3 separate regions of the Homo sapiens genome follow, and all the other regions are linked to region 3. Evidence: fine-mapped expression QTL. A gene starts in region 3. Each other region holds a variant in brackets. All regions are shown on one strand. Distances are from middle to middle.

Region 1 (2,762 bases), 270 kb before region 3:
ATGAATAGAGAGTCTCTCTCATTAGCACATAAAAGGCCTGATATATTAATGTTCAGCAGAGTTCTACTATCTTTCTCCATGGTAAAAGCAAAACTGGAAGAGACACACAATGTGGATTAAGAACAGAAATACGTGTCAGTAGCTCAGGGCTCAAATCTTTTCTCTGCTAGTAATTACCTTTCTCTGAGCAATTCATAAGTTTTCATTATTCTAGTTTATTGATTTAGAAAAATAGCAGTAAAAATACTGACTTCTTCATAGGGCTGCTATGAAAAGTTCCAGATGTTAAGCACTTTAAAAATACTCCACTAAAGCAACTGACTAATGAAACATAGTTAAGTATTTTACTATCCCTAATATCCCACGTTAAAAACATAGGGGTTAAACCACTTGTTCAAGTTTGCATTATACATCCCTGTTGCTTGCAGGTGTTCTGTTAAGCAGTTTATGATGCAATATAGTGTCTTGAAATGTTCTTAAACTCTAATTAAAGGTTACAGAATCATTAAAATTTAAACAAGCTTTCAAATAAATAAGTTGTGAAGAGAGAGAGAGAAAAAAAAAAGGCAAACTCCAGGTTTGGAATCATCTGGAGAACTCAGCTATTTGCCCTGGGCAAGCCACTCCTTTTTTGTTTTTTTGTGGGGGCTGGGGGTAACTTCAGGACCCTGATTTGTAACACAAAGCTAATACTAACCCAATAGAATCCTGCCAGGATAGAGTGGTATAATATTGGTCAATGCTCTTAGCATGCACCTGACACAGACAGAGCTGATTCAAAATAGAACAGTGAAGAGAATCTAAGTTCCCACAGGGCCAGATATGAGCCAGGTGGTCTGAGGGACCTAGATAATACAGATTATACCCAGTCACCCTGGATTCCCCCGTCTACAGACAAAAGAAGTCAGATTTGACGTCACAGCTCTTCCACGCCTGTTTGCTTTCTTGCCTTCCCCTCTCCCTGCCCGCCAGTATCATTTTTCCCCCTCCTCCCTACCTGGGCATGGAACGGACCTTCTCTCCAGAGCGCTATTTTAAAAAGAGAAGTTAGTGATTTGAATGTTCTCAGTCAACCCTTGAAGGGGAACAAGCTAATACACGAAGAAGTTAGAATCTGAAAAAAAAAAAGACAAGCGCAGTGTTTGGGGCTTGGACTTGTAAAGATGCCGGGCCTTGGCCC[G/A]CTGAACTCGCTGACTCGCCCTTGAGTTTTGTTTGCCTTAGGCTTATCTGCTAAAAAAAACCAAGTCTAAACTCAATGGTGGATTTTATTTTTCCTTCCAGCAAATCTCAAAGGTCTATAATGATTAGTGCGTATGGAGTTAAAAGAGCACAGACATCCTGAATTTGTTCATTTTACTCGAGAAAAATTGAGTATGTGCCAGAAAAAATATATAATGTATGTAAGTCTCATTAAGCCATCATTACTCGGTAAAACAGTTTCCAGGCAAATAAACACACAAATCTCCCTCTTGAAGCTGCCTCTGAGTTGCACCTTCAACTCAAATCTCCTGTCCTCATACATTGTTTACTTCAAAGAGAATTATGAGTGAACAAGAAAATGAGAATCAGGTAGGGTAATTATAATCTTGAATGAGGAAAACATGCCAACATTCACTGAATTCCTAAAAAAAAAAAAAAAGAAAGAATAAAAGAGTCATTCTCCTTCAATATATTTAACTGCTCAAAAGGGCCAAAGTGATTTGGGGTCTAAATTTTTGTTGTTCTAAAAATAAAACAAAATCTTAGAATATACTTTCACATGCTCCCAAAATTGAGTGTGAAGCTTATTAATAATACCCACTTCTTTTATTCCACTCCCATTTTCTGAGAATGTTTGCTCTGTGCTACATACCAGCATCAACTGGGCCATTCCAAACACTGTTGAAAAGCTGTCCCAAATAAACTTGGCCTTCAAGCTATAGAGAGGAATTGTCACTGGAGTTTCAAATTTTGGGTCTTTAAGTCAGTAAGATGATAATAAAAAGTAGTAACAAAGAAAGAAATTTTGGTATCTAGAGGAGAGGATAGACGAGGATGAATGGGAAAAGAAAGTTATCCTACAGTGATAACTTGTATTTATCTCAGCAGCTTAGCAATTTAATACCATAGCTCGGAGGAGGAACACAAGCCGACCACAGTCCACCCTGCCAGGGAACAGTCTGTCTCTGAGGTTAGGGAACCATTCCTGCTAATACTCCCAGGTTCTTCTCCATAACCCTTTCTAGCCTGCCTCCCAGGCAATGGATTTTTTTTTTTTTTTTTTTTTTGCCAGCATCACCTTCCTGTGGTAAGCTGGTTCACACTTCTCTGCACAGATAATGGTACAGTTTGGATGTTTGTCCCTGCCCATATCTCATGTTGAAATGTAATCCTCAATGCTGGAGGTGGGCCTGGTGGGAGGTGTTTGGTTCATGGGGGTGGACCCCTCGTGTCTTGGTGCTGTCCTTGAGATAGTGAATTCTCATGAGATCTGGTCGTTTAAAAGTGTTTGCCACCTCCCCCACCTCGCTCCTGCTCCCCCTTCACCTTCAGCCACAATTGTAACTTCCCCAAGTCCTCCCCAGAAACAGAGGCTGGCACGATACTTCCTAGCAGAACTGCCAGTCAATTAAACCTCTTTTCTTATAAATTACCCAGCCTCGGGTATTTCTTTATAGCAATGAAAGAATGGCCCAATACAGGTAACAAGGAGGAAATCCTTAAACATGGCACAGCAGACCTCTGCCAGGCAGAGCTAGAGTCTGTACAGGGGAAAACTGTGG
Region 2 (2,762 bases), 270 kb before region 3:
AAGTGGTTTTGGATTTCAGATTTTTTTTTTGGATTTTGGAATGTTTGCATTATACCTACTGGTATGAGAGCTAAAAAAACTTCGAATTTTGGAGCATTTTGGATTTTGGATTTTCAGATTAGGAATACTTAAACTGTAATAAAGTATTTCTCACCATCTGGAAGCATTAAATCAAAATCCTTAACAGAAGGAACGAGGTCGTAAACTCACTGTTAATTCCTGCACTTTCTAGCTAAAGACTGGGCACACAAAAGCCTTCAATATTTTTTAATCAACTGATTACAGATAATTTATTTGCACTGTTTGGAATGCTGTATCTAATGCACTTTTCTAAAAAAACAAAAAACCTTTAAAAATATCACAGCTATTTAAGAGCCTTTAATTAAGTTACCCGGAATCCCATCTTGTCAAGATGTCAAATACAGATCAGAGGTACATTCTAAATAAATTCATAAAGAATTTAATTGTAAAACATCTGGTACATCTTTTAAATAGAATCTTTCAGTTATTGGGTATTTAATCTACAGGATGACAAACTTTCAGAGTGACTAAATCTTCTCGGAACTGAACCACCTCCTTCAGCATTGTGTACATGTGACTGAGAGCAGATTGGATCTGTTTGCAGTGAGGCTTTAGGGCTGAGAATCAGAAGAGGTGAAGGCCACAGTGTAGGCTACAGTTTTTCTACCCTGCCAACATCAGGCTTAATATTCCATTGAGTCATTTTCCTCATGCCGGCTCTGCCGTTCAAACACTGTAATTATTTCATATATTTTTACCTAGTTATTATCTTACTCACCACAGGCACCTGTAATTTTTCTGTACTTTTTTTTAACTGCTCATTTACTTATTCTTAATTCAGCTAATAATGGTTCCATGTATTAAAATTATCATGGGGAAAGTAAGTGAAAACCTCCCAGGATGTAGAGGCAGCAGATTCATTACAGCCTACAACAGGGAATAAAATATTATGTATACTTTTTGCAGTAAGTACATGCTAATTATGCAGCTATTTATAAAACACTTAACAACATTCAAACTGATACTCTTCAATGTTGTTGTTTTTTAAAACCCTGCTTTGCATACAAGATCTCTGCTTGCAGCTGAAAACAAACTTTGGGGGTCATCTGCCCACTGACAAGACAAAGCTTTTGTATATTCTTTATAACATGCCATATTCCTCTCCTGATGGTATAATAATAACAGCAACATATATATGGGACTTTAAGGTTTATAACGTATGTTCACACACATAACCTCATTTGATTTTCACAACAACCTGGTAAAGTGGGTAGGGCAAGTATAATGTATTAGTCCATTCTCACACTGCTGTAAAGAACTGCTCAACTCTAGGATAATTTATAAAGGAAAGAGTTCCACAGGGCTGGGGAGGCCTCAGGAAACTTACAATCATGGTGGAAGGGGAACCATCATGTCCTTCACATGGCACCAAGAAGGAGAAGTGCCAAGTGAAGGTGGGAAATGCCCCTTATAAAACCATCAGATCTCATGAGAACTCACTCACTATCACGAGAACAGCATGGGGGGG[C/GC]CACACCCGATCTAATCACCTCCCACACAGTTCTGCCCCCAACACATGGGGATTAAAATTCAGATTACAATTCGAGATGAGATTTGGGTGGGGACATAGAGCCAGACCGTATCATATAATTACCCCTATTTTACAGAAGGGGCTTGGAGAGGTTAAGCATAATTGCTGAGTAATATAGCTTATAGGACACAGGTCTTAAACACAGGTCTTTTTACTTCAGAGCTTTTGCTTTTTTTTACTATAATCTGGGCTTCTTGTCTTTGTGGAGCAGCCTGACATTCTGACCACTGCGTCTATTTCTTCCTTCATATGGCATGTTCATAAAATGCAAGTTCTGAAATTACACTACTTAGGTCCCATCCTGGCTTCCCTACTTATATAAAAACTGTATGATCTTTGGTAAGTTAATTGACCATTTAGAGCCTTGGTTTCCTCATCAGTAAACTTCATAAGATTGCTGTCAAGGATGAAATGAGATAATACAGGTAAAACATGTATCTGAAACATATTAAGTATTCAGTAAATCTTAGCCACCAATGTTATTACTGATTCTTCTCTGGAAGTCATTTAAAATATTTTCAATGGACTGTTGTGGAATTTTTCATAAGACCTGGCATTTCTGGGTTTAAGTCTGTGATGTTACTCCTATCCACACAGGCTGCTCCTTTGTTTGTGTGTACCTACTAACTTTGAGCTCATAGGAGCGCCTTCTGTACCATCAATTTCTTTACATATCTCCCATTTTCTTGCTCAGAATATTTTTCCCACTGATTTTCAGAATCCTCTGTGTTTTTAGAAGTCTCTAGTTCCTGGCTATTCTCCTTTTAAGTCTCAAGCCAAGGGCTTGTACTCATAGCACAGCAGTTAGGACGTGCCCTAATGCAATACACTGCTTGGGTTCAAATCTTGTTCTAACATTTACTAGCTAGGTAGCTAGGGGCCAATTACCTAGCTGCTCAAGCTCACTTTCCCTATTGTGAAAAACAAGACTAAAAGAGTACATAGTGTTGATATGAGGCCGAGAACATGTATATGAAATATTTTTTAGCATATCTGATGACAGTCATTTTTTTCCCAAAAAGCATATCATGTTCATAACATCACCAAACAAAGTCTTCCTCATGGAAACAAACTCAAATTGCATATCTGCAGAAGCAAATTCCTCTGACGGTGACATATGGATCAAACACTTTTCAGAATCAGATGGGGACTA
Region 3 (2,762 bases):
TACTATTTATAGGTTAAGTGCAAGATCCTGAATCCCATATAATTCCTTTTTCCTGAACTATTAAATGTAGATACTTATCACATTAACAACCTCTATACTTTAAATACTCTTAGTTCTTCTACATAATCCTGTGTGATTTAACTATTACTTTAATTCTCTTACTATTTATTGCATGCAACTCTTTTAATATTAGTACATATCATTTTAGACATAAATAGGGCACTACCTGCCAAAAAATCTTGCTACTGAGTGGTAATTGAAAGTCAAGATTATTTCTCAGATATATTAAGCTTTTCAAATGAGCTACATTTAGCTTTTCTCAAATTACTTAATATTTTTCAACAAAGGCCTATAATAGAGTATGCAAAGCACGTCACACTTAAGATTTTCAAGTTTGATCTGGTTACGAATCTGTTAATTGAAAATTTTTCAATATGGCAGAGCACAAAATATTTCACACAAATGCAAATAGAGATGTCATGCAGATAGCTGCAAGACGTGCATCATTGCCCTTCTGCATCAAACTCCGAAATTCAGAGGCAGTTCACTCTGCAAGATTTCTTGCTCAGTTCTTAAAAGTTCAGATGCATCACCTTTTAATCAGGGTAATAAGCTATAATTGCTAACATACTGTGTAACGTTTAAACCTGCAATCTGGACAAACAGAAAATTATGCTGTCACAGCCTGGAAACAACTGCAATCCACTGTTAACACACACATCCTCCTTAGAGAGAGCTGTCGTCGGGAGTTACATGCTTTATGGTTTTAATTATTTTTAGCGTAAAGATCTTTTCCCGAGAAGCAGGTATTAAGACGAAAGCAGCCTCCCAAATGACCTTCTCTAACACAGACCTTGAGCGAGCGACTGCGGGGGCAGAGAGCTGTGAATTTCAGCAAGGGATTCGACAGCTCCACCGGGTCCCTCACACTTTGCTTTCAAGAACAAAAAAAGAATGTTACTCTGCACCTGCCGGTGCCCCCACCCCTCTTTAAAACTTCATACCCCGCAAGGTCTGAATAGCCGGAAAGGGTATGCATCGATTCTTCTGTCCCGTGATGCCAAGAGAAAATAAACCCCCACCCAGGAGCGGAGCCTGGAGTCGCGGCAGGGCAGGGGGTTGGAGAGGTGGGTGCTCTCTCCCCTTACTGCGCTGCATTTTCTCCACCACGTGTAATAATCTCATGCCGCTGGCACCCCACGAGAGGCGGGGATCCTTGTCCTCCTGTCTCCCGGACGAGGACCTCAACCCCTTCCCCCGCTCGGGGACCCCGGCCACCCGCAGCCCGGCCGCGCTGCGCCCAGGTGCGGAGCTGCGGCGGTCTCAGGGCCCGGGCAGCACCGCAGAGCTCGGCCCCCGGCTGCGGCCCCCGGCGAGCTACCTTTTATCCAGGCAGGCGATCCACTCGGCAGAGGAGGAAGAATGGGCAGCGTGCGCAGCGACCATGTTGAGCGGCGGCGCGCGGTGTCCCTGGCTGCGGCGACCTCCCGCGCTCGCTCTGCCTGCGCCTCCGCCCCCGCCTCGTCCGCCGCGCGGACCCCGCTCCTCCCGGACGCCTGGCGACCAGCGCGGCTGCGACAGGCCCGCCCTCCCCGCGGGCTCCCGCGGCCTGGGGCGGTGGGGAGAGGGAGGGGACCCGGGGGGCGGGACGCGGGTGCGGGGAGGGCCGAGTCGCCCGCCCGCCCGCCGCTGCACTGCGGCGCCCGTGGGTGGGGATTCCGCCCCGGGGTGGGGACCCCGCGGTCCCGCTGCTGGGGGACACTGGGGGTGGCGACCCCGGTGGCCGGCCACCTGCGACAGGTGTCCGCTGCGTCCCTCGGAGACTGGGGCCCCACCCTCACCCCGGGGCCTCTGAGGCGGGGCGGGAGGGCAGGCGCCAAGGCAGAGTGGGGAGAGGGCTGCCAGTGTCTATATATTTTTCATACAGCAAATGCTACTAAAATGGCTGCTGCCTCTCTGTTTCCTTAGAAACCCATGAGTCTTCCTCAGCAGCTGTCGAAACTTGCCGGCGGTTGCTTGCTCACCTTTGCTGTCTCCCCTTCAGAAAAGGCTGGAGGGGAGGGCGAGGAAGGCTTGGCGTGGGGACGCCCGTCGAGTCTCTCAGTGAGGAATGAGAGGCCAGCTTCTCCTGCGGGGTGAGGAAGGGCTGGGCGCAATGGGGGGCAGTGCGGGCAGGGCTGAGGGGCAGGGAGGGAGGAGGCCGGTGGGCCCGATGTGGTCTGAGGGGGTGACAGGCTGAAGTCACTGGCCTTGAACCCTGGGCCTGCCTGGGCTTCCATCACCTGCATGGTGAAGAAAACACAGTTGAGAATGGGGAGTAGCCGGGCCACAGCAGAACCGAGACCCCGGACGCGCAGGTGAACTTGTATGGCTGGCCCCCTTGCTGTTCTTCCTCTGGCTGGAGTGTTGAATGGGTGGTGATAACGGCCTGTCTCTTGTAGATGTTCACACAAATGTCATGTCTACAAGTTATTCAGTTACACTCTGCCAAGAACCAAATTACACGCCAATGGTTGTTTAGGAATTTGCGGACAAGTTAAATGTTTTGGACTATTACCAAGCACTGTTTTGATATTTATGGCACTACATTTGGGGCCAGACAATGGGGGAAAGGGACATAGCATTGCTTTCTTCTACTGTTCCCTGCCTCCTCCCCCCACCAAACCTCCTATCCAACCCTGCTCAGGGGAGAGTCAGGGGGACTGGAGAGAAGGAAAGAGCAAGTGCTTTCTGGGATGCTTTGATCCTAATAAAACAATTAT

Direction of the effects. Positions count from the first base shown, and alleles are read on the strand shown. Sizes are in standard deviations (SD) of each study's normalised expression.
For the expression in ovary of the gene that starts at base 1,585 in region 3, A is the low allele of the variant in region 1 and G is the other (large effect, 0.76 SD a copy in GTEx).
For the expression in stomach of the gene that starts at base 1,585 in region 3, C is the high allele of the variant in region 2 and GC is the other (small effect, 0.15 SD a copy in GTEx).

Evidence for each region. PIP is the estimated chance that this variant, and not a neighbour inherited with it, causes the effect. A credible set is the group of variants that fine-mapping cannot tell apart.
Region 1: its variant is the best candidate, but not a certain one, in a credible set for the expression of RAPGEF4 in ovary (GTEx, PIP 0.68).
Region 2: its variant is the best candidate, but not a certain one, in a credible set for the expression of RAPGEF4 in stomach (GTEx, PIP 0.63).

Annotation. Positions count from the first base shown.
Region 1 is chr2:173,001,499-173,004,260 of GRCh38, reverse strand. The region is part of intron 17 of RAPGEF4 (Rap guanine nucleotide exchange factor 4); the gene reads right to left. Among named protein-coding and RNA genes, the nearest start is that of MAP3K20, 73 kb to the left of the region's middle. The variant G/A (reference allele first, on the strand shown) is at 1,181.
Region 2 is chr2:173,006,857-173,009,618 of GRCh38, reverse strand. All of the region lies in intron 17 of RAPGEF4 (Rap guanine nucleotide exchange factor 4), which reads right to left. Among named protein-coding and RNA genes, the nearest start is that of MAP3K20, 68 kb to the left of the region's middle. The variant C/GC (reference allele first, on the strand shown) is at 1,550.
Region 3 is chr2:172,734,668-172,737,429 of GRCh38, reverse strand. RAPGEF4 (Rap guanine nucleotide exchange factor 4) reads right to left here and starts at 1,585. Exons shown (of 31, transcript NM_007023.4): 1 at 1,382-1,585. The coding sequence starts at 1,446. RAPGEF4-AS1 (RAPGEF4 antisense RNA 1) reads left to right here and starts at 1,224. Exons shown (of 4, transcript NR_026995.1): 1 at 1,224-1,304; 2 at 1,969-2,135.